Linked DNA regions of Homo sapiens: all the other regions are linked to region 1. Evidence: fine-mapped expression QTL. A gene starts in region 1. Each other region holds a variant in brackets. All regions are shown on one strand. Distances are from middle to middle.

Region 1 (7,265 bases):
TTAACGAACCCAAATAGTCCCTTGGTTCTCCCAACTGCAATAGAGTCATGAGCAAACTGCAGGAGGTGGGGCACTATAACAGAGCCGCACTCAGCTCCTCCTGAGCAGAATCCAAGGGGGAGAGAAATAGAGAAATGAAATGGGATATGAGTAAAAAGCATAATTTGTTTTAATAAAGAATTATGTAGTTAACCTGTCATGGGATTCGAAAAAAAAAAAAGAATTATGTAGAAATGACTAGAGTGAGAGCCAAAGTATCTTAAAGTAAAACAGAATTTATAGAACCAGAGCTCTAGACTACACCTTGCAATCTATGTTTACATTGAAAACCCGGAGCCCTCTCCAACCAAAATCTCAAAGATCAGGCCTGAAGCACCTCCTACTGAGTACGCATCAGGCCTCTCTAGCCTTGGTGGGATCTCAGTCCCTCTCCACTGACAACTATCTGACGAAACTCAAGTCACTCACAATCATTTCCTTCCAGAGCCACAAGGACCCTGAGATCTTGTTATTATTCTAGCTACGGGTGGTAGGATAAATTTTTAGCCAGAGTTCACATCTGATCAGCAGCCACTGCCTTCAGTTATTCAGATTGCAAAGATAACTAAGATTTTCCTTCTCATTCTCTCCTCTCTCCCCTCCCCAAAAAGACTAACACCTTTAACTCCTCTAAAGACTAAATCCTCTAACATCACCCACAACTCACACTCTTGTCTTCACAACCAACGAGGCTCCGACTCTGCCTCTTGCCTCAACCATGTTTACTAACGTAGAGCCTCTGGTTCCTATCTTCCTGTATTCCAAAAGCATCCAGCTCAAAATGCATATCTATCTGCTGAAGTCCGACATCACCATCAGCTCCACCCAGAGGTAGATTTAGGATTCACAAACTTTTAAGTTATCTATGCCTTTTCAGCAGAAATAGCCATGCTAACCAACCCTTTGGATTCGTCCCTCATTTTGGACAGGATCTCACAGTAAAACCACAGGAACCAGAGAGCGATATGACATCTCTGCTGACGTGAACACAACAGGAGGCTCTCCTCCCCTCCTCTACCTCCCCAGGCAGTGACCTTGCAAGCTCATCAGCACAGACTGGTCCAGCGTATGGGAGAACTGGAGCAAGGAGGCTGGCAGCTGGCAGGGTTGGGGTAGAGGGGAGGGCAGGGAAAGGTGGAAGAAGGTAGATACACGAGGATGGGGAGGAGAGCGATTGCAGAAAGATGAAATGGTGTTCTCTCTCCAGCAAGTCAATTTTGAAATATCAAGTTAAAAAAAAAATTTCTTGAGAACCAAACGTGTTTCTCCAAATTCTAGCCAAAAATAAGGCGCAAGCACGCACACGCACAAGCACACCCGCCAAGCGCTGTGCGGGTTCGGCCCCAGGGCTGGCCAGCTCTGCCCGCCCCCTCACCTGCTGGACAGTTCTCCCCCGCCCCCGCCCCCGCCCCGAACCTGAACCCGAGCCGCCCGCTCGGCAGGAACCAAGCCCAGTAGCCTGAGCCCCCTCCTCTGCCCGGGGCGCCCCCATCCCCGTCCCCGCCCCTCCTCGGCAGACCCCCGTCCCCACGCCCCTTCACACTCCCCCAGGGCCTCCTGAGAGACCCCTTCCTCCAAGAGCCACGGTGTCCTCTCAGAGCCCGTCTCCCGCTCGGAGTCCCCAGACGCTCGCCCAGGACCCCACCGGCCCAGACTCTCCTACCTCCCAAGCTCTGGGGGACTGGCCAGGCCCAGCCCGACGTCCCCCGGCAGCGGGGCGTCAGTCGCTCCCCAGCGCGGCGCCGCTCCGAGCGGGCGCCAGTTCCGCGTCTGCACTGGGGGGCACGCACCACTCGCGCGGGGTGCGGAGGGGGAGGCCGGGGCCGGGGCCGTACCATTCAGCCCGGGGGGCCGGGGCTGCACCGAGCCGAGCGCCGCGGGGCGGGGCCGACCTCGGGAGACAGCGGCTGCGCACAGACCTAGCCTAGCGCCCGTGGGCGCGGGAGGGCGCGCCAGGCCGACCCAGCGCCGTCGCGTGCCAAGTGGGGGACCCACAGCAGTACCTTCTGTTTGGGTTGCTCAGAGAGACTCTCACCCGACGGGGTCATAGCGCCCGTTTCGACGACATGGGGATTCCTCTGAAAGTCACTTCCCAAGATAATCGGCCCCTGAGACTTCCTGACGGGCTCCCCATCCCCCAGTCCCCACCCCCCACTCACGCGCTTTGGCGGTGCTCGGCGTCCGAGCAGGGAAGCCGGCTGCCGAGCGGTGGAGCCTACCAATCCTGGGCAGCGGGGGCAGAGGGGGGCGCGCGGCCGCGGTTACCTCCACCGGGCGCGCGCGGGGAGTGGGGGGGCGTGGCCGCGCCGCGGCGCCCGCTGGGAGATGGAGTCCAGTCAGTCCGCGAGGACAGCCCCGCCTCAGGACATCCTCCCCGCGGCCACACGGCTCTTCTCTTCCTGTCCCAAAGGGCCTGGGGACCGACACTGGGTTCTAGGTCTTTCAGGTTGTGCCTTTTTCAGATGCCAAAGGAAAAACCAAGGCATGCTACACATGCACGTGAGGTGCACCGCCGACGCCTTAGCGCTGAAATCCAACACTTCCTCCTCCACCGCAGAAAGGCAACCGGATCCTACCCGGATCCCAGCAGGGGAAGGGGGCGCCTAAGCCTCAGCATTCCATTTACCCATATGGCGCAGTGGGGGTTAGTAAGAAGAGGCCCCCTCTCACGGCCAAGGCTGTCATTTGTGACTCTCCCTCCTCTGGGCCTGGAGGCGGATCCTAAAGATCGCAGGCTTCCTCCTCTATTACCGTGTCCCCACCCCCAATCCAGAAATTGGTTTCTCTCATTTTGTATTCATTTTGATCTTCCTGTTCAAACAGTACCAGACCTATCAGTGAGGCGGCGCTGAGGCATTTATGGCCATACCACAGAGTGACAGTGGAGAATTTTTCTTGGGGCCCTGTGGGAAAAACAGGAAGTGGTGGAGGCAGGATGGGCAGGGCTCTGGAGAACCCTGTGCAAAGTGGCCCCCAGGCCCATCCGTTTGTGGGGTCAGCATGATCTTCAGACACAGCACAGTGTTAGCGAGGGCTCCACTGCTCAGTAGCCACAAAACTCGCAACCCTTTGACTCTCTTTTAATGCCACGGGAGGATCTCCTTGCCCAGCTCCCAGGAATGTTTGCCCTTCTCAGTCTGTTCCACTTCTAGGAGGCAGCCACCAGGCCTCAGCCATCCGGCCAAGAAAACAGAAAATATGGGGACAGAACAGTCATTCGTGCACATCCCAGATCTCAGAGAGCAGCGGTGGGAGCTTTTTGTCCTGCAGACGCAGTGCAAACACTTGCTCTGAGTGGACGCTGCTCAGGGTCCGGAGGCTCACCAGTTTCATTAGCATCCGTGGGAACATCAGTCGGTCCTGGGGAAAGGAGAGAGACAAACACAGCTTTTGCCTGTCCCCAGGGAAGCGGGGCAAGAGTAGGGGAGTTGTGGGAGAGGTGAATTGTCTGCACAGCATGCAGTCAGAGAGAAATTCTTGAAGGGAAAGTAGGTATGTCAGGGAATGGGCCTGTGTGTGGGAAGGAGGAAAAGGAACACCATGGGGAGACTCACATGGGGATGGTGGATGGAGACGTAGGCATGCAGGGCTTCCACATATGTGTGCTGCAGCCTCTCTACCTGGAGCTGGTCCTGCACGTTGGGCCGGTCTATAGGTCACCAAGAGAGTTGAGGAGCAGGTCTGGCCAGGGTCCAGTTCCATACCCCAAATTGCAACCAAAATATAGAGACATGCTCCAGCCAAGCTCTCTCATCCTAAAATAACACAGCAAATGCCTCCACCCTCCCAAGCCACCACCCCCCTCCCCCCACCGATTCCTGTGGGACCTGCAGCCCTCCTTGGTGTAAGTCTCTTGCTGTTTCCCATTGCCCCTCCTCCACACCTGCAGAGAAGATGCTGATAGCAATGAGCAAGGCAAACTCGGCATCATTGAGTTGCAGCTCATTCATGGCCCTGGAGAACTCGAAGATGGGGTTGATGAATTCCACTTGCAGCCCTGGGGAGGAAGAAGGGAGGCTGACGCAAGCAGCAGGAGCAGCAGGAACTTTCTTCTCTCCTCACCTTAGGGAACTATTAGGAACTCACTAAGAAGTTTACTGAGGCCGGGCACAGTGGCTCACGCCTGTAATCCCAGCACTTTCGGAGGCTGAGGCGGGCGGATCACCTGAAGTCAGGAGTTCGAGAAGAGCCTGGCCAACATGGCGAAACCCCGTCTGTACTAAAAACACAAAAACTAGCCGGGCGTGGTGGCAGGTGCCTGTAATCCCAGCTACTTGGGAGGCTGAGGCAGGAGAATTGCTTGAACACGGGAGGCAGAGGTTGCAGTGACCCAAGATTGCACTACTGCACTCCAGCCTGGGCGATAGAGCGAGATTCCGTCAAAAAAAAAAAAAAGGTCTACAAGGCTTTGCTGTGTAACCTTGAGCAAATGTCTTAACCCCTCTATAAGCCTCATCTGTGAAATGGGAATCATATCTGAACCCTTCTCAGAAAATTGTTGGTATAGTTCAATGACAAAGTATGCAGGGCACTTAGCGCTGTGTCTGGCACACAAGAGGTGCTGAATTAAATAATAATTCTGGTATTCTTGTTTTTTTTCTTTGAGACAGGGTCTTGTTCTATCACCCAGACTGGAGTGCAGTGGCACAATCACAGCTCACTGCAGCCTCGACCTCCCGGGTGCAAGCCATCCTCCTACTTCAGCCTCCCTAGTAGCTGGGACTACAGGTGCATACCATCACAAGTAGCTAATTCTTATATTTTCAGTTGTGACAGGATTTCACCATGTTGCCCAGGCTGGTCTCGAACTCCTGGACTCAAGCAATCCACCCGCCTCGCCCTCCCAAAGTGCTGGGATTACAGGCACCAGACACCATCACCTGCCAATTCTGTCATTAAAATTCTTGAGGGCTCCACATTTCTAGAAATAGAGGCAACTCTTATTTTTGTTTATCAAGAATCGTTTTTCAGCAAGGCACGGCGGTTCATGCCTGTAATCCCAGTATTTTGGGAGGCCGAGGCAGGGGGATCACCTGAGTTCAGGAGTTTGAGACCAGCCTGGCCGACATGGCAAAACCCTGTCTCACTGAAAATACAAAAATTAGCTGGGCGTGGTGGTGCACTCCTGTAATTCCAGCTACTTAGGAGGCTGAGGCAGGAGAATTGCTTGAATCTGGGAGGCGGAGGTTGCAGTAAGCCGAGATCACGCCACTGCACTCCAGCCTGGATGACAGAGCGAAACTCCATCTCAAAAAAAAAAAAAGAAAAAGAAAAAAGGCTGGATGCGGTGGCTTATCCCTATAATCCCAGCACTTTAGGAGGCCGAGGCAGACGGATTGCCTGAGCTCAAGAGTTTGAGACCAGCCTGGGCAACACAGTGAAACCCGGTCTCTACTAAAAATACAAAAATTAACTGGGCATGGTGGCGCACCTGTAGTCCCAGCTACTCGGGAGGCTGAGCAGGCGAATTGCTTGAACCTGGGAGGTGGAGGTTGCAGTGAGCCGAGATTGTTCTACTTGCACTCCAGCCTGGGCGACAGAGCAAGATTCTGGCTCAAAAAAAAAAAAAATCCTTTTTCAGCAGGGCACGGTGGTTCACACCTGTAGTCCCAGCTACTCAAGGAGGATCACTTGAGCCCAGAAGGTCGAGGCTGCATTGAGCCATGATTGATCACACCACTGCATTCAGCCTGGGCGACAGAGCGAGACCCTGTTTCAAAGAAAAAAAAAAGACTTGTTTTTCACTGGCATTGGCCTTACTTATTTGAACACTAGAGATACATTTCATGTATCACATCCTCGAGGGAATATTGCAGTATGGGTGAGGATGTGGATTTTGGTGCCAGACTGCCTCGGGTTGAGTCCTGCCTCTACCACTTACAAGGCAGTGTGACCTTGTGTAAGTTATTTAACCTCTCTGGGCTTTGGTTTTCCCATCTGTAAAATGGGAATAATAATAGTACCTATCTCATAAATATGTGGCATATATGGTAACTACCACATAAGTGTTTGTAAAATAAATAAAAAAATTTTTTTTGAGACAAAGAGTCTTGCTCTGTTGCCAGACTAGAGTGCAGTTGCATGATCTCGGCTCACTGCAAGCTCTGCCTCCCAGGTTCAAGCAATTCTCCTGCCTCAGCCTCTTGAGTAGCTGGGACTACTGGTGCATGTCACCACGCCCAGCTAATTTTTGTATTTTTAGTAGAGACAGGATTTCACCATGTTGGCCAGGATGGTCTCGATCTCTTGACCTCGTGATCTGCCTGCCTCGGCCTCCCAAAGTACTGGGATTACAGGCATGAGCCACCGCGCCTGGTCAATAAATAATACATTTTTCTTGGAAACAGTCTTCCTGCTGAGAAGACTAAAATGCAACAAAACATGAGCTAAAGTAATGATACCTAGAGAATGTCTCTCATACACATTGTCAAAGTCTCTGCACCCTACAGAGTTCCCCAGGCTTTGTCAGATTTCTTTTAGCAACCATCTGCTACACTTTTCCATTCAAGGCTTCTTGGTGAGTCACTTCCTGTACTTTCACCCTGATGTTTATCAAGTGTTGTGTGTTGGTCCATTTAATGGGCAGGCCCCATTTTCTTTTTCTTTTTTCTTTTTTTGAGATGGAGTCTTGCTCTGTCACCCAGGCTGGAGTGCAGTGGCGCGATCTCAGCTCACTGCAACCTCAGCCTTCTGGTTCAAGCAATTCTCCTGCCTCAGCCTCCTGAGTAGCTGGGACCACAGGTGTGCACCACCACGCCCAGCTAATTTTTGTATTTTCAGTAGAGATGGGGTTTTGCCATATGGGCCAGGCTGGTCTCGAACTCCTGACCTCAGGTGATCCGCCTGCCTCGGCCTCCCAAAGTGCTGGGATTTCAGGTGTAAGCCACCACGCCCGGCGGCAAGCCCCATTTTCTAAAGCATTTCTTGGTGAGGTTTTGAGCCCCAAAGTGTGGCAAACAGCCCCCTTTATAGAGAAATTAAGAGGAGGTTCTATAGTTAGCTAATGCACCTCTGAGGGTCTGCTGATGCCCACGGAATGAACACCTCAAATGTGCTCAGTCCATGTCACCAGTTATCTACTGCATGCAGTAAATAGTAGCGGATAGGGAGGGGAGGAGACTTGACAAGCAGAGCTCCTGTTCCTTCTCCCCAAGACCTCACTCATGAAATAAGAAATGCAAGCATGATTACTTCAAAACTGCTTGTATAAATAAATCTATGAATAG
Region 2 (7,265 bases), 62 kb before region 1:
GCTGGGCTGCTGGGGCCAAGGGTGGGGCCAGGGGACCCAACCCACAGCTCACATTTTCCAGTCCACTGCCCCAGCAGGCCTGGCCCTGGTTGGCAGGGGTGGGGTGGTCCCTGGAGCCAGTGACCCCCTGCTCACTGTCAGGAGGCGTGGTGACCCAACTGGGTCTGTCTCCCGCAGACAAGCCAAGTCCTCCCCAGGATCTCCGGGTGACTGACGCCTGGGGTCTTAATGTGGCTCTGGAGTGGAAGCCACCCCAGGATGTCGGCAACACGGAGCTCTGGGGGTACACAGTGCAGAAAGCCGACAAGAAGACCATGGTGAGCCCAGGGTCTGGGGTCCCCACGTGCACCCTGCCTAGGCCCGGCAGACCCAGGCCGCAGCTACCCTTCACTGTCCTCACCGTGGACCCCTCACCCTCCCTCTGCTGATCTGAATCCCTCCATAGTAGGGGTGGAGATGCCAAGGGCACCCAGGAGAGGCTCTCGGCATCAGGAAGGGCCTGGCCCAGAGATGCCTCCCCTCCCTCCCTGCCCCCAGGAGTGGTTCACCGTCTTGGAGCATTACCGCCGCACCCACTGCGTGGTGCCAGAGCTCATCATTGGCAATGGCTACTACTTCCGCGTCTTCAGCCAGAATATGGTTGGCTTTAGTGACAGAGCGGCCACCACCAAGGAGCCCGTCTTTATCCCCAGACCAGGTGCTGTACCCTCATTCTTCCAACCAGGGGCTGGGGCAGGGAGGCTGTGGGAACAGGGAGAGGGGCCTAGCTTTGTGTGGCCCTCTCGGTACCAAGTCCTGTCACCAACAGGCATCACCTATGAGCCACCCAACTATAAGGCCCTGGACTTCTCCGAGGCCCCAAGCTTCACCCAGCCCCTGGTGAACCGCTCGGTCATCGCGGGCTACACTGCTATGCTCTGCTGTGCTGTCCGGGGTAGCCCCAAGGTAGGGAACTTTAGGCGCTGGTCCAGGCCGACCAGGAGGCAGGGCTCACAGGCCCCGACGTTGAGCAGTCCTCTCCCCAGCCTGTCTCCCCTGCTTTCTCTCCACCTTGGGGTGTATGGACCGGGTTCCTCCCCCTGGGCAGGGCCATGGTACTCACTCTTGGTTCCATGTTTGTTTCCAGCCTTGGGCATAGTCAGGGACTCTCGTGGGACCCCCCGAGTAGAAACACAGATGTGTCTCCCTGGGTCCCTGCCAGGTCCCCTCTCAGCCTGGATGGCTTCCCTCCCTCTCTTTACCTTATTTATAGCCCAAGATTTCCTGGTTCAAGAATGGCCTGGACCTGGGAGAAGACGCCCGCTTCCGCATGTTCAGCAAGCAGGGAGTGTTGACTCTGGAGATTAGAAAGCCCTGCCCCTTTGACGGGGGCATCTATGTCTGCAGGGCCACCAACTTACAGGGCGAGGCACGGTGTGAGTGCCGCCTGGAGGTGCGAGGTGAGGAGCCCTCGGGGCCAGGGCCTGGGAGATGGGAAGAGCGGGCGGCAGTGGGGACCCTGGGCTTTGCTCCGTTGTCCTCGGCCAAGCACCTGCCCTGGCTGCAAGGGCACGGACCCTGCCACGCCCAGATGGGCAATAGCTTCCAGAAGGCTGGGAGGACACAGTGACATGGCCTCCTCTTCTGCAGTGCCTCAGTGACCAGGCTGGCTCCTGGGGATGGCCAGGTATGTACCACCCGACACCCAGGGCACAAGTCAGTGGCTGAGCCCTGGCCCTTGGTCCTGGGGCAGCCATCAGTAAATGGGAGGCTGTAGGGGCCCTCCATTCACTCGTAAGATAACCTGTGTTGCAGGTACAACCGGATGCCAGCCCCGTGCCAGGAGCCTGGAGGGAAGTTGGGGAAACCCCTCCCTACTGTTGGATGTATGTGTGACAAGTGTGTCTCCTGTGCTGCGATGGGGGATCAGCAGGGCAGTTGTCGGGCAGTCCTGAGTGGGTGTTGCACAGACTGGTCCACAGGGCTCCTGAAGGAAGCCCCTGGATCTTTGGGGTAAAAGGAGGGTGGCCTCAAGAAACAATGTCTGGGGACAGGCCTTTCTGGCCTGCTATGTCTTCCCAATGTTTATTGGGCAATAAAAGATAAGTGCAGTCACAGAGAACTCACTCTTCTCAATTTCGGTGTGCCTGTTTTCATAAAAATGCACAGGGGATGGCCAGGTGCGGTGGCTCATGCCTGTTATCCCAGCACTTTGGGAGG[C/T]GGAGGCGGGCCGATCACCTGAGGTCAGGAGATCAAGACCAGCCTGGCCAACATGGTGAAACCCCGTCTCTACTAAAAATACAAAAATTAGCTGGGCAAGGTGGCGCGCCTATAATCCCAGCTATTTGGAAGGCTGAGGCAGGAGAATCACCTGAACCCAGGAGGTAGAGTTTGAGGTGGGCCGAGATCATGCCACTGCACTTCAGCCTGGGTGATGGAGTGAGACCATGTCTCAAAAAAAAAAAAAGAAAAAAGCCCAGGGACATTGATCTTCACAGCAAAGTGAGAGCAGATACTGTTTTTTGTTTTGTTTTCCCGATGATTAAACCAGGCCCAGAGTGGTTTCTGAGTTCATAAAACATTAACGCTAGAAGGAACCTGTCTTCCCCTACAGCATTCACTCTTCAGATGATGAAACTGAGCTGTGACAGCGGAAAGTGCATTTAACTGGTCCCAGGTGCTCAGCGTGATCCTTGTGCCAGGGGCCGTGGTCACAACCGCCTGGAGGTGGGGTGAGGCAGAATCTCAGTGTTGTGATTGTGCTGGGGTGGAGCTGCACTAGGTGGCTTTGGAGTCCCAGCCAGCAATAAGCCAGCAGCGGGTTCAGACCCATATCCCCGGTGGGAGACAGCAACCCAATCCAGTCCAGGACGCTGGGCACCAGAAAGGTGTCAGGGCCAGGGCCCCACTCTGCTCTCACTTCCCCCATGGGGAGCCTAAATCCGAGCATCTGTTTCCTTTTGGGCGCGGGAAGCCAGCAGGTCTCAAATTCCCTGAGAGTGCAGCCAGGTTTTTCCAGGACAGAATTCCATGAAGGCAGCTCCTAGGGGAGCTTCTGGGAGTTCTATGCAGTGGAAGACACTCCTGGCCAGGAGTCCGGGGCCCTGTGGGAGGCCCTGGCTGAATCACCACACCTCTCTCGACCATACCCACCTGTAAGGGAACGGAGAGGGCCAGGGCCTTGGCTTTCTTTCACTTAATCTCAGTTCAGGTGAGGACGCCCAGTCTGGCTGCTCCCTCTAGCAGCCTGTTCATTCATGGCAGCCCAGCTCTCTGCAGGGCCCTCAGGTGCCCAGGAAGGAAAGCTCCTCCCGCAGCCTTGCTCTAGGAGCCCAGAACAGGGGAGCTGGGGCCTCCGTGTGCCAAAGCTTGGACATGGATGACCTCATCTCCTTCCTTCCTTCCAGCCTGAGGTGACTTTTTAGAGTCCAGGGATAGCTTTCCTCAGGCCTGAGCCAAGAGGAGGTGTCATTTAACACAAGGCAGCCAGGGAGCCTGAAGGGAGTTGAGGACATTTATTTCACATTCACACAACTGTACATTTTCTATAAATAATGTGGGGCTGAAATATTTACAGTCATTTCTTGCCCATACCCAGGCTGTCTCTCCCTCCTGACACCCCGTGCCTGGAGAGACAGCCTGCAGACAGATGTGCAAACCCAGCTTGGTCTTTCCTGCCCCCTCCCTGATGCTCAGGCAGAGCAGCCAGCGGTCCCTGGGACTCCACTAGCCTCGACCACTCCATCCTCTGATGCCGAAGGCATGGCAGGCCACAGGGAATTCGCCGCTCCACTGCAGTCACAGAGGCTGTGGCAGGCAGCAGCCAACACTGCGGGCCCTGGGCAGTAGCTGCCGGCTTGGGAATGCAGAAGGAAGCAGGGAGGCTGCCACTCACTCCGGCTGCCCCCCAATTCTTCCCTTCCTCTCTGTGCCCTTCCTCTGAGAGGGTGAGCCCCAGGGTTCCCTCACTCCTCACAGAGTGAAACTGCTCCAGGCGCCCAGTCATGCCGGGTCACAGAGAAGGGAGAGCCAGACTCTTGCAGTGGACAGTTATAACGCCAGGGACAAGGACAAGGAACCACAACACAAATGTCTCAAGGACACAAAATAGTGGGTTCACACCGGCCCCACAGACTGTACACATTCTTGAGCCCTGAGGGGAAGGCAGTTTGGTCTTCTGGGAGTGGAGAGGGAGAAGGTGGACACGCTCAAGACACACTCAGAGGGACACATAACCGGTAACCAACCAAGCCACAGCAGGGGGCTTGCAGAGGACACACGAGCATCATCCACTCCTCAGTCACAGCAGCATCGTGCACTTGGGAACAGCAAGGGGCCAGGGGCGTGCCCTGGGCTGGGGCAGCTGCGTAGCCCCTCTCCATCAGCTAGAGACAGGCCGGGGCGGGGTTCTGAGATCTTCCTCACTGCTATGAACTGCAGCCACGTACGAGAAGAGACATAATACGGAGTAGCAGATTTCGTGGGCCTAGAGGAGAGAAAACCAGGCGGATCACGATACTGAGACTCCTCCATCTCCATATGTGAAGGATCTGCCAATGGGCAACTCCTGCCCTAACACTGGGCATGGGCCTCTGGGCTAAACGTGAGCTCCAAGCAAGGAAGCTGTCCCCATGGGAGAGGGGATCCGTGTGTGTGTGTCTGTCTCTCAGGGCTCAAGACCTGTTTCAGCCTGAGTTGAACCTTTGGCAACAAAACGAGGTCCCCACTCACCCCTGTGCGCTCAGAGGGCCCTCCCCTCCTCCTGTCCGAAGGTCCCCCAGGGAGCCCTGCGCACCGTGGCCCATCAGGGTTGAGCGGCACACTCACCATTGGTGTCTTGTACTTGTGGCTCACCACTTCTTTAATTTCAGGAACTAAAACCGGACGGGCAAGAGACAAAACAGAAAGTTCAACACTAAGAGCAATCGTGCCATGCTCCCCCAGGCGGCAGCGCCCGGCGTCAGGGTCCCCTTCCCCTCTGTGGCCTCTCACAGTGGCTGCAGCAGCTTAGGCTATGACAGGGCAGAGGCCACCAGAGGCTCTGTCCAGACTCTGCCAGCTGGGAGGACATGGCCCTAGCCTCCTCAGCTAGGCCTCTGTCATCCGCAGTGGCGTTTACTTGATGGCCGTGATTCTACCCACTTCTTTGAAAGCCCTGGATGGGAGGGACGGGCCTTTCACCAGCCTGGTCACAGCTACTGTCCAGGGCCCCTGAGGAGCTGCAGTGGGGAATTCCCAGGTTTTGGCTGGGAGGAGAGAGCTCTCTCTAGCTTGTGTCCAACTTTGCTGAGACACCCGTGAACTCGTCACCAGCCTGAAAATTGGGTCATGTTAAACACAGTTCCCGTTATTCCCAGCCCCCTACACAGAGGGTCTTGAGGCTGGATGAAGAGGTAACATGATATAAACCCACAGGATGTGGCAGTGTCCTTCCCTGAGTGGCAGGAGAAGCCCAGACCTGCCTGTGTGAGGGAGAGCGTCTGAGGGCTCTGGAGCAACACACCCAGCAGAAGACAGGCGAGTACAGCACCCAGGGAGGGAGGTGACAGGGAGCATCAGGCAAAATACACACATGTCCACAGCCCAGAAGGCAAGAGTGAGAGTCCCCCCGCTCCAGCCATGCAGGGGTTCTGCTTGGCCAGAGGAAGGAGTAGGCCCCCCAGGCTCAGCCACCATCATGGCCCCTTGAGACTGGGAGCAGAGGGGCCTGGCATCTCCCTGGGGGCCAGAAAAGGCAGGAGGAGAATTGGCCGTACCTTCTTCTGACCCTGGGAGGTAGAATTTGGGGGAACCCAGGGTCAGCAGGGAATAAACTCATCAAAGGTAGAGCAAGAAGCCCCAGGCCATTCTCCCGAGTTGGAAGATTCCCCCAAGTATCTCTCTGACAGAAGAGAGAAGGGAACACACGGGGAGGAAAGTCCAGTGAGCCGGTGAGAAGGGGGAGGCAAGGTAGGAAGAAAGAGGGTAGGGGAGAAAGGAAGAGACGAGCTGGCAGTGTGAGGAGCTGGTTCGATGGGAGCTACCCACCCAGGGCAGGGCCCAAGGCAGAGACCTGGGGAGAGGCAGCACGAGCCGAGGTCACTTTACCTGCTGGAGAACGAAGGTTTTCATAGCAGCGATGAGGGGCACAAAAGAATGAAGCACAAACACAGCAGGAACTCAAAGCCCCAGGGTGAGAACCCACTACACCACTCCCTAGCGCTGGCTCCCAGCTTCCGGCTACAGCTGTCCCGCTAGACTCCTCTGTCCCTCAAGTGAGTCTGCCTGCGACGCCCGGTGCCCCTTTGTCTGGCACAGAGGCCAGGTGGAGACCAGAGCGGCGCCAGGGAGGCTGGCTAGCGCACTGGGCTGCTAGAGAGATTGCAGCAGGTGACATGGACATAGTGGAGCTTGGGGGTCGCCAGTCTGCTGTGTCCCAAACTTTCTGACCACTGGCTGGCCCAGCACGGGGAGGTGGTGCTACTTCACTGAGCTGCTTCAGGACCACCTCTAAACTCGAAACCCACCTGAGGCCCCATTTGCTCTTCTGCGATCCATTATCTATCTTTCCCTTCCACATCCCGGCTCTCATCTCAGGGGTCCCTTTTCTTCCTTGTCACTCCTGCTCCTCCTGACTTCTCTACAGAGGTTCTTCTTCTCCCTGCCCCTAGACCCTCCTCTGGAGCTCCGAGGTTTGAGTTACTGCCATGTGAGTCCAGACCTAAGAGCAAAATAGTGTAATTACCAAATTCCTCCAGGACAAAGACGCCTCGAACTGTATTGCACTTTTTAATGTGATTCAGCTCTATGAAAACCTGCAAGAGAGGGAGGGAGGCCGGGGTAAGGCCCACAGGCTCCACCCCTGCCCCACACAGCACACTCTCCCAGCTACAGCCCCACCCACACAAAGAAAGTCTATTTCCCAAAGAGAGGACAGAAGAATCCACACGCACACAACTCAAAAGCGCTAAGAAGCGAAGATAGCAGAAAGGGCATGTACCTTCCGCTCCTGGCCGGAGGAGAAAGCATGGGAGAGAAATGAAGGCGTTAGTTTGAATGGTCAAACCCAACCCGAAGGCCCTGCTGCTGGCCTGGGCTGCCCGCCCGTACCCTCTGCCCAGGGCAGTGCTTGTAAGACACAGTGCCCCAGGGGTCCCCACTCAGCCCATTAGGTCTCTACCCTTCCATGCATCCTCCTCCGGCGCAGAGGGCTGGCACGGGCGCAAAGCTCCCCTCAGACTGTCCTCAGGGTGGGAGGTGTTGGTATCCTCCTTGAAACAGGATCCAGGATCTCCCAAGAGGTATGT
Region 3 (7,265 bases), 120 kb before region 1:
GGGCAGAAAGGCTGGCCGGACTCCGGGCGTTGGAGGTTCCCGCACAGGCCTCGGAGGTTTGGGCTTCAGCTTGAGGACAGGCAAGAGCTCAGGAAGACTTTTAGGTGGGGAAATATCCATGAGAGAACCTCGAGATAGGGACAGCCACGGAGGCACAGGCCTGAGGGGCCCTGAGAACCACAATCACCTCCTGCCCTGCTCCCGGCTGTGTGCCCTTGGCCGTGCCCCTTACCTCCGGGAACTGCACTTCCGTCATCTGCAGAATGGCACTGACAAGGCCTGCCTCGTACGGTTACGTGAGGGAGGGGTGAGTTAGTGCCCAGCACGGGCACCCTCCAGTGCTTGCCTGTCACCACCCACAAGCACTGGAGCACTGCCATGGTGCAGAGCTGGGGTCTAGGTCTCAGGTGGATCTGGGCGAAAGCCTCACCTACACCCCGGATTGACCAAGCCACGCTGTGCCGACTCACGGCCACTTCTGAGCCTCAGTCTCCTCATGTGTACCACGGCACCAGCTTCAGGTTTGAATAAGAGAGGACACACCCTGCGACACACTCCATGTTTCCTGGAGTCAAAGCCAAATTCCATACCATGGCCTGACCTGACTGGCCCTGTCTGAGCTTCTGCCACTGGCTGTGCCCCCATAGGCCTCCTTGCCATCTCTGGCTCACGCTCCTGCCTGGGGCATTGGCACTGACTAGTCCCTCTGCCCGGAATTCTTCTCCCAGACATCTGCTTGGCTCGCTCCCTCACTTGCTTCCAGGGTTTGCCGGATGCACCTCTCTTGGTGAAGCCTGCCCTGCCTGCTCTCGTGAATGCTGCAAACTGTCCCCGCCCACTCCATCCCCTACCGCAAGCCCCTTATCCAGCTGCATGCCCTTGTTCCTATGGCGAGTGTCACCTTCCAACATGCAATGAACACTCGCTATCATGAGTTCATCGTGGGTCTTGCCCTGCTGAAGAGCAGGCCCATGAGGGCGGGGATGAAGGGCCCTGCCTGTTTGGGCTGCCTGGCATGCAGAGGCCCCGAGTCAATCATTGTTGAAGGCCTTAATGCACTGAAGAGCCAGCCCAGTGCTGTCAACAAAACTTGGGGAGCTCGGAGGGGCCCAGTTGACCCTGGCTGGGGCCCAGGGAGCCTCTCCCAGTGTCTCAACCATGAGAGGAAGTTGCAAGACTGCCATTTCTGTCCACAGGCTCAGCTCTTTTTGGTCAACTTTCCCAGCTCTTGGTCTGAGGCCTGTGTGTTCTCACATGCCTTGTCACACCCTATGGGGACAGGTTGCTAGGAAAGTGGGTGGGGGGACATTTCCTCATTTTCTAGCTCGTTTGGGCCAAGGCTGAGAGATCTATGAGGTCAGGGGTCGTGCTCCCCTCTGTGGACTCAGCTTTGAGGACACCCCCTCAAGTTTCCTGTTGCCCGCCTGCTTTGTGATTGCATTAGCACCCGGCCTGCCCCTATCATCAACCCAGCCAGCAGGGGCAAAGGGCCACACTACCCTAGGCCTGCCCAGCCTCCCTGTCACTCTGCAAGGCCCAGCCCCTGCAGGGTCTCCCACTTGTCTAGTAGGCTGGGAAGCTGCACTGTCTAGCAGGACTGGTAGGATAATGAATAGGTATAACTTTTATTTTTATTATTATTTATTTATTTATTTTTGAGATGGAGTTTCACTCTTGTCACCCAGGTTGGAGTGTAGTGGTGCCATCTTGGCTCACTGCAACCTCTGCCTCCCAGGTTCAAGTGATTCTCCTGCCTCAGCCTCCTGAGTAGCTGGGACTACAGGTGTGCACCACCACACCCAGCTAAATTTTGTATTTTTAGTGGAGACGGGGTTTCACCATGTTGGCCAGGCTGGTCTCAAACTCCTGACCTCAGGAGATCCACTCGCCTCTGGGAGTGCTGGGATTACAGGCGTGAGCTATCATGCCTGGCTGATACAACTTTTGTTAAGGGCAATGTGATAATATCTGTTTCCAGTCTTATTTTTTTTTTTAAGACAGGGTCTTGTTCTGTCACCCAGGCTGCAGTGCAGTGGCGTGATCATGGTTCACTGCACCCTCATCCTCCAGGGCTCAACCAATCCTCCCATTTCAGCCTCCTGAGTAGCTGGCACCACAGGCACACACCACCACCACCACCACCCCACCAAGCTAATTTTGAAAATTTTTTTAGAGATGGGGTCTCCCTATGTTGCCCAGGCTGGTCTCAAACTCCTGGGTTCAAGTGATTCTCCCACTTTGGCCTCTCAAAGTGTTGGGATTACAGGCGTGAGCCACTGCACCCGCCCTGTCTGTCTATCCATCATCTGTCTCAAAATTAACAATGCACAGAGGGCATAGTGGCTCACACGTGTAATCTCAGCACTTTGGGAGGCCAAGGCAGGAGGATGGCTGGAGGGCAGGAGTTCGAGACCACCCTGGGCAGCAGAGGGAGACTCTATCTCTAAAAAATAAATACAGGCCAGGAGTGGTGGCTCATGCCTGTAATCCCAGCACTTTGGGAGGCCAAGGTGGGTGGATCGCTTGAGCCCAGGGGTTTGAGACCCAGCCTTGGCAACATGGCAAAACTCCTGTCTCTACTAAAAATACAAAAAACATTAGCTGGGCATGGTGGCGTGCACCCGTAATCCCAGCTACTCAGGAGGCTGAGGCAGGAGAATTGCTTGAACCCAGAAGGTGGAGGCTGCAGTGAGCCAAGATTGCTCCACTGCACTCCAGCCTGGGTGACAGGGCAAGACTCCATCTCAATAAAATAAAATAAAATAAAATACATAAATACATACATAAAAATTAAAAAATGAAAAATGCACTGTCCTTTGACCTGGTAATTCAACTTTTGGGAATCTCTCCTAGACATCCTCCCTCCTGCATATATGTAATTTAGCATATGTTATTGATTGCTGTATTATTTGTAATAGCAAAAGACTCGAAACAAATGTCCATCAATAAGTGGTTAAAGCTACTTGGGGGGCTGAGGTGGGAGGATCGCCTGAGCCCAGGAGGTCGAGGCTGCAGTGAGCCATGATAGAACCACTACACTCCAGCTGTGTGTGCAGAATGAGACCCTGTCTCAAAAATACATATATACTGATGAGAGACTGGTTAAATAACAATGGAATGCTGGGTGCGGTGGCTCACGCCTGTATTCCCAGCACTTTGGGAGGCCAAGGCAGGGGGATCACTGGAGATCAGGAGTTTGAGACCAGCCTGGCCAACATGGTGAAACCCTGTCTCTACCAAAAATACAAAAATTAGCTGGGAGTGGTTGCCCATGTCTGTAATCCCAGCTACTGGAGAGGCTGAGGCAGGATAATTGCTTGAACCCAGGAAGCGGAGGTTGCAGTGAGCCGAGATCATGCCACTGCACTCCAGCCTGGGTGACAAAGCGAGACTCCATCTCAAAAAGATAAGTAAATAAATAACACTGGAATACTATCCAGCAATGAAAATGGACCATAGCGACACAGAATAACATGGTGGGGAAAAGAAGAAAGACCCAAAAGGATATTTACACTATGATTTTTTTAATATAAAGATTAAAACCTGTTAAAATAAAAACTGAACTATAAGGGAAAGCAAGAGAAAAAGCAAGAGGCCTGTGCGTTGGCTCATGCCTGTAATTCCAGAACTTTGGGAGGCTGAGGCGGGCAAATAATGAGGTCAGGAGTTTGAGACCAGCCTGGCCAACATGGTGAAACCCTGTCTCTACTAAAGATACAAACAATTAGCCGGGTGTGGTGGCACACGGCTGTAATCCCAGCTACACGGGAGGGTGAGGCAGGAGAATCACTTCAATCTGGGAGGCAGAGGTTGCAGTGAGCCAAGATCATGCCATCGCACTCCAGCCTGGGCGACAGGGTGAGACTCCGTCGGAAAAAAAATAAATAAATAAAAAATAAAAGAAAAGCAAGTAGAAAATTACTGAAAAAGTTAGGACAGTGTTATTTCTAGAGGGAAGTAGGGGACATTTGGGGATTCTTCTGGGGTTCTGGCAATGTTTTTTTGTTGTTTTGTTTTGTTTTTTTTTTTGAGATGGAGTCTTGCCCTGTCACCCAGGCTGGAGTGCAGTGGCGCGATCTCGGCTCACTGCAATCTCTTCCTCCCAGGTTCACGTCATTCTCCTGCCTCAGCCTCCCAAGTAGCTGGGACTACAGGCACCCGCCACCACGCCCGGCTAATTTTTTTTTGTATTTTTAGTACAGATGGGGTTTCACCGTGTTAGCCAGGATGGTCTCGATCGCCTGACCTCGTGATCTGCCCACCTCAGCCTCCCAAAGTGCTGGGATTACAGGCGTGAGCCACCGCGCCCGGCCTTTCTGGCAACTTTTTTATTTCTTTACCTGGATGGTGGTTACATAGATGTCAGCTTTATAATTATCTTTTTTTTTTTTTTTTGGAGACGGAGTCTTGCTCTGTCGCCCAGGCTGGAGTGCAGTGGCGCGATCTCGGCTCACTGCAAGCTCTGCCTCCCGGGTTCACACCATTCTCCTACCTTAGCCTCCCGAGTAGTTGGGACTACAGAC[C/T]GTGCCACCATGCCTGGCTAATTTTTTTTTTTGTATTTTTAGTAGAGACGGGGTTTCACCGTGTTAGCCAGGATGGTCTCAATCTCCTGACTTGGTGATCTGCCTGCCTCGGCCTCCCAAAGTGATGGCATTACAGGCATGAGCCACTGCACCCGGCTGCTTTATAATTATTCTTTAAACTGCACATAAATATTGTATTTACTCTTCTAAATGAACGATGTCTCTCATGACTTAAAAATATCCTGGTAAATCCAAATAGTGGAATACTATACGGCCATTAAAAAGACACTACAGTCAACACTAATTTATAGTGTATTTAAAAATAACTAAAAGAATATAATTGGAATGTTGGTAACACAAGGAAATGAAAAATGCTTGAGGTGGTGGATACCCCATTTACTGATGTGATTATTACACAATTTATGCCTGTATCAAAATATCTCATGTACCCCATAAATAAACACACCTACTATGTACCCACAAAAACTATAAATGGAAAAAACTCAGAAGGACAAGACAGTGCTACATGGGTGTGACATGTATATTGGGGAAAAAAAACAAGGGAACTACAATATGTTTAATGTGCCCCCCTCTGTGTAAAAAATTTTTTTCTTTCCTTTTTTTTTTTTGAGACGGAGTCTCGCTCTAACGCCCAGGCTGGAGTGCAGTGGCACGATCTCGGCTCACTGCAAGCTCCGCCTCCCGGGTTCACACCATTCTCCTGCCTCAGCCTCCCGAGTAGCTGGGACTACAGGCGCCCGCCACCACGCCCGGCTAATTTTTTGTATTTTTTTTTTAGTAGAGATGGGGTTTCACCGTGTTAGCCAGGATGGTCTCAATCTCCTGACCTCGTGATCCACCCCCCTTGGCCTCCCAAAATGCTGGGATTACAGGCGTGAGCCACCACGCCCGGCCCCCTCTGTGTAAAATTTTTAAAAATATATCTGCTACACGCTGTGTAGATGATTTCTAGACCAAAACACAAGATCAGGTAACAAGTGGGCTAGTCTGTGGAAGGGGAACTGGGCAGTTGTTTACCTTTTTTGTACCTTTTGAATTTTGTACCATGTGCACATGTTATCTATTCAAAAAATAAAATAATTAAAAATGATGTTTTTGTTTTTCAGTCCCTAGAGCGTCCAAGATTTTTGGTTTCAAACCAATTTCCTGCTGACCAGAATGAAATGGAGCCACATTCCAGCACGATGCACCTGCTGACCTCCTGCAAGTCAGGGACCTTCTCTGCCCCTCTTTTGCTCTGCTGCAGGAGGGAGAAGCTGGGAATGTGTTCCTCTGGGGTCCCATCACCTCCAGCCAGCCACTGTCCCTGTCTCCCCAAAACCTCCTCGTTGTCCCTCCTCTGTCCTCCTCCTCCTCCATCTGCCTTCGCCCTGCTCTCCTCTTTTTCGCCTGAGGTTCGTGCTGCCTCCTCACCTCTTGTCCTGTTTCTCCCTTCTCTCTGCTCCCTCCTTTGATCTTGCTATTTTGCTTCTCTTTCCCTTCCTCTCTTCTCCTCCCTCCCCTTCCTCCCTGCTCCCTGCCTCAGCTTCTCAGTCTCTCTCCGTTCTTCCTCTAGCTTCCTTCCCTCCCCAGAAGACCCAGCCCTTCCTAGAGCCCCAGAAGCCAGGGTTCATGCCCCAGCTCTCTACCCACACATGCTGTGCAACCCTGGGCCAGTCACTGGTCTCTTGGGCCTCAGTTCAACAGATGGCTGTCTTGGTGATGTGAGATCATAGGGTGGAAGCACCCAGAATGGTGCCAGGCACTCAAAAATTTTTTTCTTTTCCTTTTTAAGGAACTACTAACCGTGAGGTTATGGATTACCAAACCGTTCCTGTTCTTGGAATCTGGGTCCTACTATTCCCAAGAATTTGAATTACCACGGGTCCCTGGGGATGTAAGGGGATGAGGCTTCTGATGTACTTTGGGAGGGGGAGGAGTGGAAAGAGGAGTTGGGAGGACACTCTAGCATTGCCCAGAGGGCAGAGGACATTCTGCCTATTTCCAGAGGTTATTGACCCTGGATCTCTTTTATGGAGTTCCTCACCCAGGCCCCTTGAGCTTGGCCATACTTGAGGCAATGGGATATCTTCCTTCTCCTGGAGCCCCTTGAATCTTAGGCCTCGGGAACACACAGTCTACTGTGTTTCTTGGCTGCACCCACGGAGGACAGCCCCCATACTCCTTGCTTACAACCAGCAAAGACTCCACAGCCATCCCTGCACACGACTCAGGCTCCTTGGCTTGGCACTCAAGGCTCTTTGCTTTCCTGTCCTGCTTTGCTTCCAGCTGCAAAGATGGTGGCTTCCTGTTTTCCTCTTCGTTTCCTTTGCTTAAGTTGATTCTCAGCCAGACATGCTTTCCCCCTGCACGCTTCCCTAAGCCATCCTATCTGGGACCCTGACCCAATCAATGGTTCCCTAATGCACCTTTGAGACCAAGTGTACCTGGCACCTCCTCTCTTGCCCCACTATCTGCTCACATGACCCTCTGCAGGCCTGTAAGCTGCTGGAGGCTCCGAGTATGCCTCATTCATGTCTATCCCCCTTACTAGGCCCAGACCATGGAAGACACTCAATAAAAAGTAAGTGATTAAATGACAACCTCTACGGAAAAGAGTATGGAGATTTCTCAAAGAACTAAAAACAGAACTACCTTTTGGCCAGATGCAGTGGCTCACACCTATAATCCCAACATTTGGGAAGGCTGAGGCAGGTGGATTGCTTGAGCCCAGGAGTTCAA
Region 4 (7,265 bases), 310 kb after region 1:
TATCCACATATAACTTTGGACTCCCCCAAAACATAACTATTAATAGCCAATATTTGACTGACAGCGTTACCAATAACATAAACAGTCAATTAGCACATATTTTGTATATGTATTATATACTGTATTCTTACAATAAAGTAAGCTAGGGAAAAGAAAATGTTAAGAAAATTATGGGGCCAGGCGTGGTGGCTCATGCCTGTAATCCCAACACTGTGGGAGGCCAAGGCAGGAGAATCACTTGAAGCCAGGAGTTCAAGACCAGCCTGGACAACAAAGCAAGATCCCATCTCTACAATAATAATAATTTAAAATTTAAAAAAAAGAAAATCACAAGGAGAAAATATATTTACTATTCATTAAGTGGAAGTAGATCATTCATTATAAAGGTCTTCATCGTTGTTTTCACACTGAATAGGCTGAGGAGGTAGAAATGGAGGGGGTTGATCTTACTGTCTCAGAGGTGGCAAAGAAAATCTGTGTATAAGTGGATCACACAATTCAAATCCATGTTGTTCAAGGGTCAGCTGTATATCTATATAGCTATGTATCTAGGTCTTTACATATCCTATTAGTTCAGTTTTTCTGGGGAACTCTGGCTAATACAATAGATATTTTTGATATTCAACAAAAGGATTGGAAAGGTTAAGGATATTCATATAACATACAAAAATCAAAAAAGACAGAAAAGAGAAAACAAGAAAAATTAGAGCATAAATCCATAAGTCCAATGTCTAAGTAACAACAGTTCCAGAGATAGAACAGAGATGAGACAATATTAAACACATAATTCAAGAAAACTTCTCAGAACTGATATACATGAATTTCTACACTGAAAGGATCTCAAGACAATGAAAGAAGATCCACACCAATGTAAAACTACATGAAATATCACAAATCAGAATGGCATTAGATCACTCAATAGCAATACAGAAAGCTAAAAGATAGGGGAGAAATGCTTTAAAAATTCTAAGGGAAAATTATCTCCAACACAGAATTTTATATGTATCTAAACTATCAATCAAGGGTAAGGGTAGTATAAAGTCATTTTCATAAACAGAAGATTCCCTAAAATATTACTTTGCATGCACCCTTTCTCAGAAAGCTACTAGAGGATGCAATCTAATAAAAAGAAGGAACATGTAAGGAAAAAGGAAGACATAGGCTTTAGGAAATATGCACTAAAACTTACTTAAGCAAGACAAGTAATATCCATGTAAGGATGAAGAATGAAGTAATACCCATGATAAAGATGAAGGATTTAGAGAGCAACCAGGCCAGACTGAAGCAGGGGGACCAGTTAGATGAAGAAGTACTTCAGAAAAGTTACCTTGAAGAAAAGAAATTGAAACTGAGAGGATGCCTGATGTGTTTGAACTGACCTTAGGCTATAAAGTCTGGGGCACAAGTTCATCGAAAACCATGCACAAAAGGAAAGGCAATTATTAATTGCAGGAAAATGAAAAAAAATGTTCAAAAAGGAGAAATGTAATCATAGTATACTATATTATATATATTTTACATATATATGTTGTATACTGTGTGTATATATATATACATATATACTATGTATACGTGCATACATATGTATAATTTTCACAGTCATAATAAACACTGAATATTGATTTAACCAAAAATTATAATAATTTTGTTGGAAGACTAGGAAGAAGGGAAATTGAGTAGTATAAGAGACCTAAATCCTCATCTTCTATAATATAAAGTCATTAAATAATATCTAAAACTGAAAAATCAAGAAGAGCAATTTAAGCATGTTATTTTAAAGTACACAGCAAAAAAAAATTGTTTTTAATGCTGAAAAATTTGAAAATGGCCTCCTCGAAAAAGGGGGTTTCGTTTACATGCTGTGAGATCACCGCAAACCTACCTCACTGTGTTGAAACGGGACAAATACAATAGAACGCATTGGGTGGTGTGTGTCTGATCCTGGGTTCTTGTCTCCCCTAAATGCTGCCCCCCAAGTTACTGTATTTGTCTGGGCTTTGTAGGACTTCACTAAGTTGATTGCTAGGTGGCCTAGTTTGTGTAAATATAATGTATTGGTCTTCCTCCGTGTTCTTTGGGGGTTTTGTTTACAAAGTTCTTTTTGTATTGAGAGAAAAATAGCCAAAGCATCTTTGACAGAAGTTTCTGCACCAGGCAAAAAGATCTGAAACATTAGTTTGGGGGGCCCGCTTCTTAAAGTGGGGATCTTGAACCATCCTTTCTTTTGTATTCCCCTTCCCCTATTACCTATTAGACCAGATCTTCTGTCCTAAAAACTTGTCTTCTACCCTGCCCTCTTTTCTGTTCACCCCCAAAAGAAAACTTACACACCCACACACATACACATTTAATGCTTGGAGTGTCTCCACAACTCTTAAATGATGTATGCAAAAATCCTGAAGCTAGGAAAACCCTCCATCCCTTGTTCCCAACCTCCTAAGTCAAGACCATTACCATTTCTTTCTTTTTTTGGTGGGGGGGGGGGGGTGGATGGAGTCTCGCTCTGTCGCCCAGGCTGGAGTGCAGTGGCATGATCGGCTCACTGCAGCCTCTGCCTCTTGGGTTCGGGCGATTCTCCTGCCTCAGCCTCCTGAGTAGCTGGGATTTCAGGCACCCGCCGCGCCCAGCTAATTTTTTTATTTTTAGTAGAGACGGGGTTTCACCGTGTTGTCCAGGCTGGTCTGGAACTCCTGACCTCAGGTGATCTGCCCACCTTGGCTTCCCAGGGTACTAGGATTGCAGGCATGAGCCACCACGCTAGGCCGACCATTTCTTCATGTATTCATGCCAAACACTTAAGACACTGCTGTAGCCTGGGCGCAGTGGCTCACACCTGTAGTCCCAGCACTTTGGAAGGCTGAGGCGGGCGAATCACAAGGTCAGGAGTTCAAAACCATCCTGGCCAACACGGTGAAACCCCGTCTCTGCTGAAATACAAAAAAATTAGCCAGGTGTGGTGGCGCATACCTGTGGTCCCGGCTATTCAGGAGGCTGAGGCGGGGGAATCGCTTTAACCTGGAAGGCGGAGGTTGCAGTGAGCTGAGATCGCACCACTGCACTCCAGCCTGGTTACAGAGCAAGACCCTGTCTCGAAAAAAAAAAAACAAAAAAACAACAAAAAAAAAACCACACTACTGTATTTTGGATGGATCAAACCTACTTACTTTTAATTTCTAATCCTAAAGTAAAGAGATGCAATTGGGGGCCTTCCATGTAGAAAGTGGGGTCAGGAGGCCAAGAAAGGGAATATGAATGTATATCCAAGTCACTCAGGAACTTTTATGCAGGTGGTAGAAACTTATGTCAAAGTGGCCACAAGATTGTTTAATAGGAGATGAATGAATGTAACTCCATGTTTACTGCTAGAAACCAAAGCTTTGTGTAAAATCTTGAATTTATGGGGAGGGAGGGTAGGAAAGCCTGTACCTGTCTGTTTTTTTCCTGATCCTTTTCCCTCATTCCTGAACTGCAGGAGACTGAGCCCCTTTGGGCTTTGGTGACCCCATCACTGGGGTGTGTTTATTTGACGGTTGATTTTGCTGTACTGGGTACTTCCTTTCCCATTTTCTCATCATTTTTTAACACATGCTGACTCTTCCCTTCCCTTCTCCTTTCCCTGGGAAAATACAATGAATAAATAAAGACTTACTGGTACTCAAAAAAAAAAAAAAGAAAGAAAATGGCCTCCTCTGAGGAGTGAGACTTCGGGGTGAGAAGGTTATGGTGTAGGGTACTGCTTTTTTTTGTTATAACTCTTATAGACCCATTTGATTTTT[A/T]AAATTCTGTAGTTAAGAAACATAAACATCAAAAACTTTAAATCCAGCAATTCTTTGAACTTTCTTCAATGGAAGAAGTGGAATTTTGCGCTCTCTGGATTCTCCCTCTTCTTTTTTATTTTATTTTTTATTTATTTATTTATTTTTTCAAAACAGAGTCTCACTGTGTCGCCCAGGCTGAAGTGCAGTGGTACGATCTCGGCTCACTGCCACCTCTGCCTCCAGGGTTCAAGCGATTCTCCTGCCTCAGCCTCCAGGGTAGCCGGAATTATAGGCACCTGCCACCATACCCAACCAAATTTTGTATTTTTAGTAGAAATGGGGTTTCACCACATTGGCCAGGCTGGTCTCGAACTCCTGACCTCAAGTGATCCACCAGCCTCAGCCTCCCAACGTGCTAGGATTATAGGCATAAGCTACTGCATCCAGCCGAATCCTCCCTCTTCTTATGCATTATTTGTGACATCATGTTTTCCTAAAAGAGTTTTTCAACTGTTTCTTCTAATTATTATTTTGTAATGCTTTTGTATTTTTTCTTTTACCAATTCCCATAGTCAACTTTGCTCCTGTTAGCATTCTTAGTTACTTCTTTTTTTAAAATGATTTATGCAGCCTTACTTCACATGCTTTAATGTAGCTCAGAATACTTGTACTTGGCCCTAGTCGAGCTATCTTTCTTCTTTCCCCCAGTAGCTAATACAAACTTTCTTTGCTCTCCTCAAGCCTTTTACTTCTGCTTCCCTAACTCTAAGAAGATAATCTTGATTCTTACTTCAGACAAAGAAGAGGTCATCAGGTAAAGAACACCAATTTCTAGCTCCATTTCTAAGTTTAACCATGTCCTTCATCACCCTTACTTCCCACCTCTGTTGTTCAAATTTAATTACGCCATGTGAAGCGGTTTTAAGATCACCTTAAGACCTGATTTCTCACTTGGGAATTCTTCCTAATTGAGAAAATTCTTACTTATGAATTGCTTTCAAATATGGCAAAATGTCTGTCAATATTACATGTAATAATGAAAGTTGACATTATATTGTTTTATACATATATAATAAAACATATATCCATACTTTAGGGTTGATAAATTTTTTTTTAGGTCTCAAATATTTTCAAAGATCCCATAACAGTTTGTTGGTTAGGCACCACACAAACAGTGCCTTCTGGATAAATATGGTCCTGACTCCCAACTTCAAAATAGCCTTGCACCTCTGCCTTTGATCCTAAATTTCCTCGTACTTCTAAAAATGTTCCATCAAGTATTCATCATCCTTTCCTTCCCTTGGATCTTCCCTCTCTCCCTGTACAATGGTTCCTTTCCCTTCAGCCTAAAAACATACTCAAGTTTCTCCCATCTAAAAACTAAAAACAATAAACTCTCTCTTCCTCCTCTTGCTATCACCCCCTCTCCTCCTTTCCCTAATTGGTCAAACTTCTTGAAACGAATCTAGCCTATTCTCAACGCCTTCACCCTCCGATTTACTCTTCAATCCAGCAAAATCAGGCATCTTGCCACACTACTCCATGAAAACCTCCCTTAATGCCACTAACAACCTGCCTTGCAGCCCGTATCTTCTTTGACCTCTCTGAGGCATCTGGTATCATTGAACACTTCCTCCATCTTGAAACTCTCCACCCCCACGTCCCCAGTGTCTGTGGCACTGCCTTTTTCTCACTCTCCTCCTAAATCTCTTACAAATCACTCTCCAGTCTAGGAAGATAAATATCTTTCTTTATTGTAAAACTAGCTCTCTGGAAACAAGATTTTGGTTTCTACAATGGGTCTCTAACTCTCAATAGAAAAATAAAATTATTTAGCAGCAAAGTTACCTCCAACGCCCAGCAACAAACCAATTATAAAGAACTAAAAATTCTAAAATTACATGTTCTCACTAAGGTGAACGACTCACTAGAGTATAGAGAGGAACTATTCTGATTATTGGAAATGTTTACAAAGGACAGGAAGTGACACAGAGAAATGACAGGCAACATAAAGTTAAGAAAGAAAATAATAACCATTGTAAAAAGGGAGCAACTGAACTCAGAGACAGGGACCAAGGATAAAATAACTTTGTACTTCAAGAGGTAGAGGACAAAAACCAAATACTGACCAGCACATCTATGCTTCACCTGTGAATAAGGGCAAGCAGCTACCAACAATACAACTTGCCTTGAGTAGGGTAGATGTCTCCACCGCATATACTAGGTATGACAGATTTTTGTTTGTGTACCACCAAAAATACACTGCCATTCTTCTTGCACACGACTGTCCATTAGACTAAAATTCCCTGCCTCGTTGGCAGTTAGCAGGGACCTTATTAAGTTCTCACCTATGAAATGTGAGCACAAGTGATGTTTGCATCTTCGGCTTCACTTGCCTAAAAGGTCCTTGCCCTGGATTCACTGTTTCCCCTTTTACTGGCTGAAAATGGCTACAATTGAGGCAGCTTTGGAAACCATGTGTTTCAGACAGAATGACTGCTCTGCTAGCTGAAATCCAATGATGACTTCCTAAAGCAGACCCTGCCTTTCACATCCTGGATTTGGATTAAGTAAGAAAGAAAGAAAGTGCTTCTTGTATGAGCCATTGCACTGGGAGGGAGGGGGAGTTAAGTGGTGGAGGTTTTTTGTTTTGTTTTGTTTTTATAACACCAGCTCAGCCCTCACCCTAATACCCTGAGAGATTAGGAGCACCAAACCACCTGAAGCGCCAAACAAACCTCAGTAGACCTCAACAGCTTACTGACTCAGTAGGAAACATTAGTCTGGAGAGAAGGGAATGGTAAGTACTGGTGTGGGAGCAGGGAGATGTCTTCTTATTAATTAATAGCTATAAATTAGAATTTAACACTGAGTGGCACCTAAACCACTTAATTTCAAATTAGAAGAATTAGAATCAAATAACAGCTTCACTAACTGCTATCTATATAAATGGAAAATTTACTTAAGTTATTTGAGCCACCATTTCTTCTCATGCATAAAAAAAATAACATCCATCTTCATGGGTAACTGTTATAACACATTTATAGCACAATATAATAAATTAGGTCTAAAATAATGACACTACCTCACCAAGAAAATGTTAAATTATCTTCTATATATTAAAACAATCTGGCAGGGTATGGTGGCTCACGTCTGTAATCTCAGCACTGTGGGAGGCCAAGGCGGGTGGATCACCTGAGCCCAGGAGTTCGAGACCAGCCTGGGCAACATAACAAACAAAGAATTTAAAAATTAGCTAGGCATGGTAGCACACTCCTATAGTCCCAGCTACCTGGGAGGCTGAGGTGGGAGGATCACCTGAGCTCAGGAGGTCGAGGCTACACTGAGCCATGATCATGCCACTGCACTTCAGCCTGGATGACAGAGTGAGACCTTGTCTCAAAAAAAAAAAAAAAAAAAGAGTCTAAGGAATATATCATATATTCTGTAGAATTTTCTACTGAATTTAAGTTCTGACACTTAAATTTTTATTGAACTGAATGGGAA

Which allele goes with the higher level. Positions count from the first base shown, and alleles are read on the strand shown. Sizes are in standard deviations (SD) of each study's normalised expression. Not every link is listed here.
With allele T in place of C in region 3, the expression in monocytes after interferon gamma of the gene that starts at base 1,816 in region 1 is lower (large effect, 0.83 SD a copy in Fairfax 2014).

The links. PIP is the estimated chance that this variant, and not a neighbour inherited with it, causes the effect.
Region 2: its variant is the best candidate, but not a certain one, in a credible set for the expression of MADD in whole blood (INTERVAL, PIP 0.72).
Region 3: its variant is the best candidate, but not a certain one, in a credible set for the expression of MADD in monocytes after interferon gamma (Fairfax 2014, PIP 0.54).
Region 4: its variant is the best candidate, but not a certain one, in a credible set for the expression of MADD in whole blood (TOPMed, PIP 0.52).

The regions. Positions count from the first base shown.
Region 1 is chr11:47,264,684-47,271,948 of GRCh38, reverse strand. It overlaps MADD (MAP kinase activating death domain), which reads right to left and starts at 1,816. Exons shown (of 37, transcript NM_001376571.1): 1 at 1,703-1,816. NR1H3 (nuclear receptor subfamily 1 group H member 3) reads right to left here. Exons shown (of 10, transcript NM_005693.4): 8 at 3,923-4,036; 9 at 3,594-3,688; 10 at 2,916-3,399. The coding sequence ends at 3,253. It overlaps MADD-AS1 (MADD antisense RNA 1), which reads left to right. Exons shown (of 3, transcript NR_120569.1): 2 at 808-870; 3 at 969-1,292. RefSeq lists enhancers at 1,757-2,051, 2,525-2,634, 6,417-6,711 and silencers at 1,525-2,054, 2,265-2,374.
Region 2 is chr11:47,326,246-47,333,510 of GRCh38, reverse strand. MADD (MAP kinase activating death domain) reads right to left here. Exons shown (of 37, transcript NM_001376571.1): 34 at 6,959-6,967; 35 at 6,704-6,773; 36 at 4,807-4,853; 37 at 3,480-4,465. The coding sequence ends at 4,361. MYBPC3 (myosin binding protein C3) reads left to right here. Exons shown (of 35, transcript NM_000256.3): 30 at 178-317; 31 at 538-697; 32 at 809-945; 33 at 1,253-1,439; 34 at 1,630-1,666; 35 at 1,795-2,105. The coding sequence ends at 1,640. Among named protein-coding and RNA genes, the nearest start is that of MYBPC3, 23 kb to the left of the region's middle. The variant C/T (reference allele first, on the strand shown) is at 2,200.
Region 3 is chr11:47,382,218-47,389,482 of GRCh38, reverse strand. It overlaps SLC39A13-AS1 (SLC39A13 antisense RNA 1), which reads left to right. Exons shown (of 4, transcript NR_182308.1): 4 at 5,651-7,265. Among named protein-coding and RNA genes, the nearest start is that of SPI1, 7.3 kb to the right of the region's middle. The variant C/T (reference allele first, on the strand shown) is at 4,524.
Region 4 is chr11:46,951,209-46,958,473 of GRCh38, reverse strand. All of the region lies in intron 1 of CSTPP1 (centriolar satellite-associated tubulin polyglutamylase complex regulator 1), which reads right to left. Among named protein-coding and RNA genes, the nearest start is that of CSTPP1, 18 kb to the right of the region's middle. The variant A/T (reference allele first, on the strand shown) is at 3,777.